Linked DNA regions of Homo sapiens. The protein of the gene in region 1 interacts with the protein of each later gene in a pairwise test. Each region holds a gene or a part of one and is shown on either strand. Other genes may lie near its edges.

Region 1 (5,064 bases):
GAGTTTAGCAAGGATGTCTGCATTGCTCATGCAAATGAACTAAGCGTTCATTGGAATGACACCATCACCACCCAAATGAAAAGAACTGGCTGGAATATTCATCAGCCTACTAATGTCATCTCCCAACCCACTCTCCAAACTCCATCCCAAAAAAGCATCCAGTTCAGAATTGCCCACTGTTGGCAAAGAAAGAATGTCACTAATTTATTTACAGGTGAGTATTAACACTTTCTGCCAATGTGTATTTTAAGCAATTACATTTAGCAATTACAATTAGATTCTTGGCATCCTCAAGGGTTCCATCATCTTCAATCTGTCCTAAGCCTCAGTTTCCCCATCTCTAAAATGAGGATAATAGTACCTACATCATAAGGTGGTTCTGAGTATTAAGTAAGATGATCCATGTAAAGCACTTAGCACAATGCCTGGCACACAAAAACACTCAGTAAATATTAGCTATTATTTTGCATAGATTTATTTACCTGGTTTGGAATTTTGAGGATCCACCTCAAAAGCTGATCTTTGTAATTTTCCTGAAGCAGGGCTCAGAACAGCCCACTTGATAAGAGACAGAGTATGTGAGTCTTATCAAAGGAGTGAACCCAGCTGGTCACTCTGCGTGGTATCCACAGCTCAACCTTTGTTGTTTTCTTCTTCCCATCACCTATAAGGCAACTCCTATGAAGATTTTTGTGAGGGGTTTTTTAACTTTAAATCTTTGTGGAAAAAAAAAGACCCTAACCAAAAAAAAAACTGATACTGCCAGAAGTAGAAAAAAGAGAAAATGAAAACATCCAGAAAACTAATGACTTTGTATTCCTTAATTTGGTGATTTACCAAAGTGTCAAGACATGACTCCCACACCAATGACAACCACTTACATTTCCCCTAGAATGGCAGATTTTTTAACGTACTGGGTTTCCTAAAGCAATTCTTATTTTATATATTCTAATTTATGTACATGAATGTGTCACTTAGACCTGTCACTAGGGATGGTTTAGAAAATAAACTTACACTGCACATGCCTCAGTCCACTTCAAAACTACTGGCAAATGCCTGTAGTCCCAGCTACTCAGAAGGCTAAGATGGGAGGATTGCTTGAGCCCAAGAGGTCGAGGCTGCAATGTGCTATGATGGCACCACTGCACTCCAGTCTGGGTGACAAAGTGAGACCCCATCTCTAAAAATAAAAATAAATAAATAAAAGACGCGAGTTCCTTGTGAATATCAAAAGTCTAATCTGCTGTTATAAATATGAGGAACAAAGCAAAGGGAAGAAATAGGAAAAAAGAAAGACTTCTCTATTTTCTCATCTCCCTAACATTCCTTCTATCTCTAAAATTCCAGACTTTTCTACATTTTCCTCTTCCATGGTACCCGCCCCCCAACCTCCACCCCAACACTGACCTCCTTCTATATTGGCCCTTCCTCCTCCTTACAGGGAGCAGATAGCAGGGACTTACAGATGAACCAGGCCCTGCGATTTTTGGAAAATGAGCACCAGCAACTGCAGGCCAAGATTGAATGCCTGCAAGGGGACAGAGACCTGTGCAGCTTGGATACCCAGGACCTACAAGGTACTCTTCTCCTTGGAGGCCTTGAGTGCATGGCAGCCATGGCCAAGTGAGCTAAGAAAAAAGAAACTGAATTAAGAGAAAGGCTTCAGCCTTTTATTTGTTTGCTTGATTGGTTGATTGGCTTTATAATCTCATTTTACCTTGAGGGAGAGGCAGGACTGTTTTAATCATCCAAAATTGAAAATTAATTTCACTGTAGTAGATAGAGTATCTTGTTGTCTGAGCTCTCTTTTTTAGCCCATCCCTCTGGGCCAGATCACAGCTGCTCCCACATCAGTCACATATGTCAAGGCCACAGTCCTAATTTGAAAGGGAAAGGTCAGTTGAAACACAAGGCATAGAGAAAGTCTCTCAGTCACATCCTCTGTGTCCGCTGATAGAGAGGACTAGATAGTGTGTAAACACAAGCCTCAATGCAACCCAACATTGTTGATGCACAAAAACCTGAGGTACTTGGCTTCTGGTTTACCTCTTCAGAACTGGGACACGAAGATAGAGCAACTTCCAATAGACACACGTTAAAGACCATGACAAGACAGCATCTATTACTAATTTCCATCCTAAGTACTGAGTTCATTAAGTCTTGGGTTCCTTTATTTTGGCTTGCATTATTGCATTTTCAGATCAACTAAAAAGGTCAGAGGCAGAGAAACTCACCCTGGTGACCAGAGTACAGCAGTTGCAGGGTAAGTTCGCTTTCCAGATTCTGAAAGTCCACAGGGTTTTCCTGGGGTCCTGGCCCACAAAAGGCACCCAGAGTAGGGACTAAGGGCCCAGTCTTTGGCATATGCTCTAACTCTGTGCACTTTCAGACCCTCTTCTTGTAAAGTGAGGTCATTTACATAGCTCTCCATAAATTATGTGTTAGCCTCTGTTCTTTTTTTTCTACTGTTCTCCTTCCATGCCAATGACACCACTTACATTTCCCCTAGAACTGCAGATTTTTTTTAAATACTGGGTTTCCTAAAGCAGTTCTTATTTTATATATTCTAATTTATGTACATGAATGTGTCACATAGACCTGTCATTAGAGATGGTTTAGAAAATAAGCTTACACTATACGTGCCTCAATCCACTTCAAAACTACATATTGGGCCCAAAGAGGAAAAGGGACTTCTCAGAAGAAAAGCAGTTTCTGAAAAGCTGGAGAACCTGACTCAATTAATACAGCTGCTGGTTGCCCACCACTTTAACCTCTGACACCTGATAGAGAAGCTTCATGAAAGCAGCAATGATTATTAAGAGAGCAAAGCAACCACAGGGAAAAGGGAAAATCTTCAAGCAAAGACTTGAAGATAGAGACATGGTAGGGGGAGATATAAGGATGCTATATTCATAGCAAAGTACCACAGACTGGGTGCCTTGAAGAACAGAAATGTATTGTCTCACAGTTCTGGAGACTAGAAATCCAAGATGTCAGCAGGGTTGTTTCCTTCTGAGGGCGTTTAGGGAAAGATCTATCCCAGGGCTCTTTCCTTGGCTTTGTAGATGGCCGTCTTCTCTCTGTGTCTCTTCACATTGTCTTTCCCATGAACATATCTGTGTCCATATTTCCCCTTCTTATAAGGACACCAGTGATATTAGATTGGGGCCCACCTGAATGACCCCATTTTAACTTGATTATCTTTTAAAGAATCTATCTCCAAATAAGGTCATTATTTAAGGTACTGAGGGTTAGGACTTCAACATATATATTCTGGGGGACAAAATTCAACACACAGCAGATGGGAACATATTTAATAACCAAGGTTCTAAGCAAAGTTCTGAAAAGAAAACTTTTTGTAGTAAATATGCTAGCATAGACAAGTTCCTTGTGTTTTCCAACAGGTTTGCTTCAAAATCAATCCTTACAGCTTCAAGAACAGGAGAAACTCTTAACAAAGAAAGGTCAGCAAATTTATTACCACAAATTCTAAGATATTGCTCTTCTCTTACCTGCCTAGAGGCAGCGGGATGGACTACATGACCTCCTGGAGTCCCAGCCAGTTCTGGGAGTCTGTTAAGTCCGGGATGTGTGGGAGCTTTTTAAGGACTGATCATTGGCTCTGAGGACACTTCAACTAGTTAGCCTTCTATCTTGAGGTATATAAACTGTGAAAAAGGGTTTCTATTCTCTCTGAAAGCACATGTCTGTGTTGAACATTTCAATAAATTTATTTTGAACTCAGGATTTCATGTCAATTTTTACACACTTGATTTTCCAAATCACATCCAACTCCCCAGCCCCAAACCACATAGCAGTCCAGAGTCAACTCACTGTTAGCCCTAGAGAGTCTACTGTCCATGTTTCCTGAGAATTCACTGTGTATACAGAGGGGCAATAGCTCCTCACCTGTCCACTACACACGACCTTTTGTTTTCTCTTCACAATCATTGGGCATAATATAATAGATAAGGCAGAAATTTTTATGCTCACAGAGTATGGATAAGAACATGAAAGTCTATGGTGACACAAACTAACAACACAGCTATAACAACAATCCAAAACTTCTGACTCCTAGTCCATGCTCTTTTCACCAAGACTAAGACTGCAGGGTGGCTAAAAAACCATCTTTAACCATATGAAGATAAATTTTAGGATATGACTGCCATCTTCACAACTTTCAAATGAGGACATCAGGGAAAAGGGATTGTATTAAAGCATTTACCAAACTTATTTGACAAACTAGGAAGAATGTGACATACAACCAATGAAATTCAATTAAGAAGTATTCACTAAAACTATCTAGCACTAGATAAGACTGGGGATACAAAGAAAAGATCCCAATCTTGCCCTCAAGGAGCTCAGATTCCAGCTGTCTGTCCAAGCTTAGCAGGGGCCTACTGGAAGTTAACCTTTATGTCAGAGAATGCCATCAGTCTAGCCAAGAGCACGCCCTCCCAAGTTCCCTCCCCTCTCCCCACTCCTAGTGGTTTCACCCTCAGGGCCCTTCCTCAGAGGTGTGGGCCTCACTGTCACCAAGAATCTGGCTGCTTTTTTAGATCAGGCTTTGCCCGTGTGGAGTCCAAAGTCCTTCCCTAACGAAGTGGAGCCTGAGGGTACAGGGAAGGAGAAAGACTGGGATCTCAGAGACCAGCTGCAAAAGAAGACTTTGCAGCTCCAGGCCAAGGAAAAGGAGGTGAGAGGGTGACCTGAGATAGTGAGGGCTCATTTGCGAAATAGCAGAGAAACCTGGGAGGCAGTCAAAAAGCAGGGATTTCAAAGTTTAAGTTGTGAGTGGATAACCACAGACATTCATTTGCCTACATAAAGTGTCTGTGCTTTTGGGCTGACTTGTCAATCTTTTCCCTTCCTTATTTATACCAACTCCTATTCAAGGTTTTATTAAATGATTACCTTTTAGAAAGTCGACCAAAACTCAAACACATTTAATAAAAATATTAACTTCTCAATATGTCGTCCCACATTGAGTATCTTAAGTCTTTATATGTCTCTTAAAGAGTAAAACTCTTCCTTTGTACATACTCACAAACATACACATCCCCA
Region 2 (4,700 bases), on another chromosome or scaffold:
AAGAATGTTTTTGTAGATATGAGCTAAGAATAACAAAAAAAATTTTTGGCTCCAAAAAGTTTTAATGATTTATACCCCTGATGTTGGTTCCATTGTCTTTTGCTTAATATTTTTAAAATATATAAACTATTTCTTAAGTTCAAAATTTTGTTACTTAGATTACATTTTGTTTCCTCCTTCTTTTTGTAACTACTACCTAAATTAACATTTTAATTAATATAGTTTTTTAAACAACAGAGAAAGTATCAATTCATAGGCTTAAATACCCATGGCATGACATTTCCTAATTTTTCTCTTTAATAAAGCAATTTATTAGCAAATGGAAGAACTAAATGAGGTGACTAATATAGGTTTAAATAACCTTGTAATCATATTTGAGGTATTTACTTTTGTCAGCTCCATTCACTTAAAAAAAATACATTTTGATCATTTTACTTACCATATGTATCATATGGATCTACACTGGGACTCGGCATATTCCACCACTGGATGGTTGCATCAATACCACCACTAAAACACTGTTCTCCATTAGAACTAATAGCTAATGACAGAACAGGGCCGCTATTGTAGGAAGAGAGGAAAAACAAATTACTGATAAATTCTAAGAAGAAACTCAAATCTCCATTCCCCCAACCTCTGAATTTATGTAATATCTAAAAACTGTTTTAAGAGAACATGTACACCTGACTGGTACTTTTTTTTTTTTTTTTTTTTTGGAGACAGGGTCTCACTCTGTCACCAGCCCAGACTGGAATGCAGTGGTGATCTCTGCTCAGTAAAACCTCCACCTCCCAGGTTCGAGCGATTCTCCTGCCTCAGCCTACTGAGTTGCTGAGACTACAAGCGCACGCCAACATGCCCAGCTAATTTTTGTATTTTGTGGTAGAGACGGAGTTTCACCATGTTGGCCAGGCTGGTCTCGAACTCCTGACCTCAAGTGATCTGCCCGCCTCAGCCTCCGAAAATCCTCAGATTACAGGCATGAACTACTGCATCTGGCCTGAATGGTACTATTATATTCATAGTCTCACCAATACAATTATTAAATAGCTATTATTCAAGTAATACATCTTTTCTAATACAAAACATTGAGAAAATTACAAGGTTTGAGGACCGATAAATAATATTTAACAATAATGATGATGTTAATTAAATACCAATTCAGTAAAACTTACATGTGGGCCCTAAATGTGTAGATAGGCTCTACATCTAAAGAGGCACTCCTAAAAGAGGGGGAAAAAGGGTAGGGGAAGAGAAGGCAATTAAATAACTATGAATCACTGGTTGATATTAAATAGTCATTAGATCAAATGTGTGCATTAAAGACATGCAACAATAATGAGGAATAATTACTTATATTAGCAAAATTGGAAGAAATACACCAGGCTAACACTAAAATACTTGCTTTTTGGCAGGAACTGTTTTTTGCAGGTTCCAAAGTTTCAGGGTATGGTCCTCAGAAGCAGTAACCAGCACAGGTTCTACAGGATGAAAAGCTAATGCCCGTACTCCATCAAAATGGCTACGTAGTGTATACTTGGGATTCCATGTCTTTCGAAAGGCATCTTTATTAGCAGGCAACTAAAAGGAAAGAGCACAATATTTAGTGGTAAAAGTAGTAAACTGGAAGGCATGTGGAGTGTTTGTTCGTTTCTTTTTGGTGTGTTTAACACATATATTTAAAACTGTTGGCTAAAATGTCCAGTGGAAATTTAATGTACCTTTAAAACTTTCTAAAAAAACTTTATCATTTAATAATAACTCAGAATAATTTCATTCGCCTTACAAATAGCCTAGGTCAAATGAAGAGTTCCTTAATCTGTTTTTACCTATTAAGCTAAACCCAAAGCTCCCATTAAATGTCAGATGAGAACAAAATAACTACCATTGCTGCAATACTTTACATGAAAAATAATTACATAAGTTATTACAAATATCCAACGGTACAGTATTAACAGTAAAGTTGTCATTTAGAAAACGTATTAGCATGTGAAATTATTAAAGGCAGCAAGTTAAGGTACTTTCTGAAAGTCTGAACTAAAGACCCTTTAAGAATATTTTTATCCCATTTTCATAATTCTTGATATTGACAGAGGTTTATCTTTTTACCTTCACATTTCTCCATCTGTAAAGATAGGCTGTGAAACCACTTCTAAAGCAGTCAAAAGTTTACTGGAATTTAGTCACTTATATACTTAAAAAAATATATTAATGAGAATAATCCAGCCCACCAAAGGCTGTCTCTAAGCATGCTAATGTTAAGTATAAAACGTGGAAAAAAGAAACTCATTATAAAAAGAAAAAAAAATTGCTGAAAAACTGCAATTAACATAAAGATCTAACAAGTATAGTTAACTCTCAATTGAAATATTAATGACTAGAAAAAATTAAATCCAAGACAAGTTTCACCTCTAACACTGGACTCCCCACTCCCCAACCCTTCCATCCACTCCCCAATCCTCTAATGAAGGAGTTAAGTATTCAGGAAATGATGCAAGCTAACTTTAAAATGTTCAGAAACTTTAAAATATTTCCTTAAGAAAATAAAAGTTCAAAAATAAAACATGCTTTTTAAGAAGTACTCTGAAGGCAAATATATGATTCAGGTTATTTTTTTTCTTGTTAACACCAAAATATGGCTTAATTTGAGATAATTGAGAGTTGACTACTCAAGATGTATTTACTGACCAATATATTAATCATCTCAAACTTCTAGTTAATCCACCAAAATACCTAAAAAAAAAATTTAAATACCACAAAGAGAGTAGTTATAAAAGAAAAACATGTCACTTCAAATCAACACATTGACACAAACTTATCTTTTCCATGCACCTTGATATTAATTCTGTTTTATAAGTGATTCCAAAAAATAAGGAGCCTTCTATTAAATCATTAAAAAATTAAAAATAAAACTGCACTTACATCATAACTATAGTCTGCATCATTTGTTACCGTCAAGTCTGCAAGGTCTCCAAGGCCCAGTACACTTAACAAAACATCATCAGAACCCATAATAAATGACTTGCCTCCTCCAGATGGAAACGTTATTGGTTCAGCTATAAAGAACAAAACCGCTTCTTAAATGCTGAAAAATCATACAGTACAAGACAATATTGTGGGGAAAATTTAAGCACTTAACAGTTACAATATTCAGTAATATAATTAATTTTTATTTTCCCACTTCTACTCAAAAAATCCTGTTACTAAGCAGTGTTAAACAAATGTGTTGGAACTGTGGTGTATTAACTGTCCACAAATAAAATGTGCACTAGATATATTATTCTGGGGTGGAAGCTAGGGCACAAAAGCTTTGTCTGTCTAAATCTCTTATCACTTCAGTACAATTATAACTATAGTTTACATGTTAAATAAGAAATAGGACAAATTTTGATTAAATAATGGAGTTAAATATCAGATTTTTGCATTCATGAGGGGAAACCTCTACCATGGACCTCAAGGACCTCAAAGTAGTCATATAGTATTTTTTAAATGTTAATAGGTTGTCACCAAGTCCTTTTGCTTTCTAAAGAAGTACTAGGCATCCTAGTCCCTGATAAAAACTAGTACAAACATTGAAATGTAAATGGTTTACAGTCAGCTATATACTATATCAGTTCACTAGAATGAAGCTTTAATTGTTCAGATTCCTTTAGTAACAGCAATGGTCTAGGAAAAAATTCTTCCACCAACAATGTCAGTTTCCTTTCTATAAAAGGTTAATCCACGTGGTCTTCAGAATGTCTTCCAGCTTTATTTATTTATTTATTTAGAGACACAGTCTTGCTCTGTCGCCCAGGCTGGAGTGCAGTGGTGCGATCTCGGTTCACTGCAACCTCCACCTCCTAGGTTCAAGCAATTCTCCTGTCTCGGTCTCCCAAGTAGCTGGGATTACAGGCGCCCGCCACCACGCCCGGCTAATTTTTCTGTTTTTAGTAGAGATGGGCTTTCACCATGTTGGCCAGGCTGGTCTTGACTCCTGACCTCAAGTGATCCACCTGCCTCGGCCTCCCAAAGTGCTGGGATTACAGGCGTGAGCCACCGCGCCCAGCCTGTCTTCCAGCTTTAAAGCTTTGACTATGACTTTTATTTTAATGTCCCATTCTAGTTACCATGACACTCTAAAATGAAGCAAGTAATCTTGACCACAGAGCTTTAATTTCTGATCAGATTTGCCATTTCAATTTCAAACTAAACTCAGGTTGAGCTTCACTTAGTTTTCTCAACTATATCATGTGCATTATTACAGCTTTTCATGTTAATATTAACAGTTCCAATTATTTAAAATGCGTTTTCCTTTCTATACATACTACTGACCAATTAAACTCTGCCATAATTGAATGACTATTATCTAAATATTTTGTTGTAACAGTCATAGTTTAAGCAACAACCTTCAATATCATTTCAAATATGCTTTGAAAGCAAAATTTTAACATTAAGATAACAAGGGAGAAATACTCAAATCATAATATAAAACTCAATATATCAAAACACACTTAAAATTCATGAGCAAATTTAAAAGGGACACATTATACAAAAAATCAAGCTGATTATCAATTTTAAAAAAATTCCCATGAAAAATGATATAAATATGCTACAGGAAACACAACAGGTGTAATGAAACTTGACAGTCATCACTAAACTACTGGAAATAATTCTGAGAAGACACAATTCATATATATACTATGGCAAAATAAAATTCA

What was found. The genes of interacting proteins can lie anywhere in the genome.
Region 2: the proteins of TRAF3IP3 (region 1) and STRN3 interact in binary tests that used the Homo sapiens proteins (3 or more experiments, as listed by UniProt).

The regions. Positions count from the first base shown.
Region 1 is NC_000001.11:209,775,911-209,780,974, forward strand, and holds part of TRAF3IP3 (TRAF3-interacting JNK-activating modulator), read left to right. Parts: coding exon of another isoform or gene 1-214; intron 215-1,441; coding exon 1,442-1,577; intron 1,578-2,200; coding exon 2,201-2,263; intron 2,264-3,297; exon of another isoform or gene 3,298-3,404; coding exon 3,405-3,464; coding exon of another isoform or gene 3,465-3,493; exon of another isoform or gene 3,494-3,520; coding exon of another isoform or gene 3,521-3,543; exon of another isoform or gene 3,544-4,559; coding exon 4,560-4,696; exon of another isoform or gene 4,697-5,064. UniProt on the Homo sapiens protein: Adapter protein that plays essential roles in both innate and adaptive immunity. Plays a crucial role in the regulation of thymocyte development.
Region 2 is NC_000014.9:30,910,602-30,915,301, forward strand, and holds part of STRN3 (striatin-3), read right to left. Parts: intron 3,057-4,700; coding exon 2,923-3,056; intron 1,582-2,922; coding exon 1,406-1,581; intron 1,224-1,405; coding exon 1,176-1,223; intron 562-1,175; coding exon 440-561; intron 1-439. UniProt on the Homo sapiens protein: Calmodulin-binding scaffolding protein which is the center of the striatin-interacting phosphatase and kinase (STRIPAK) complexes.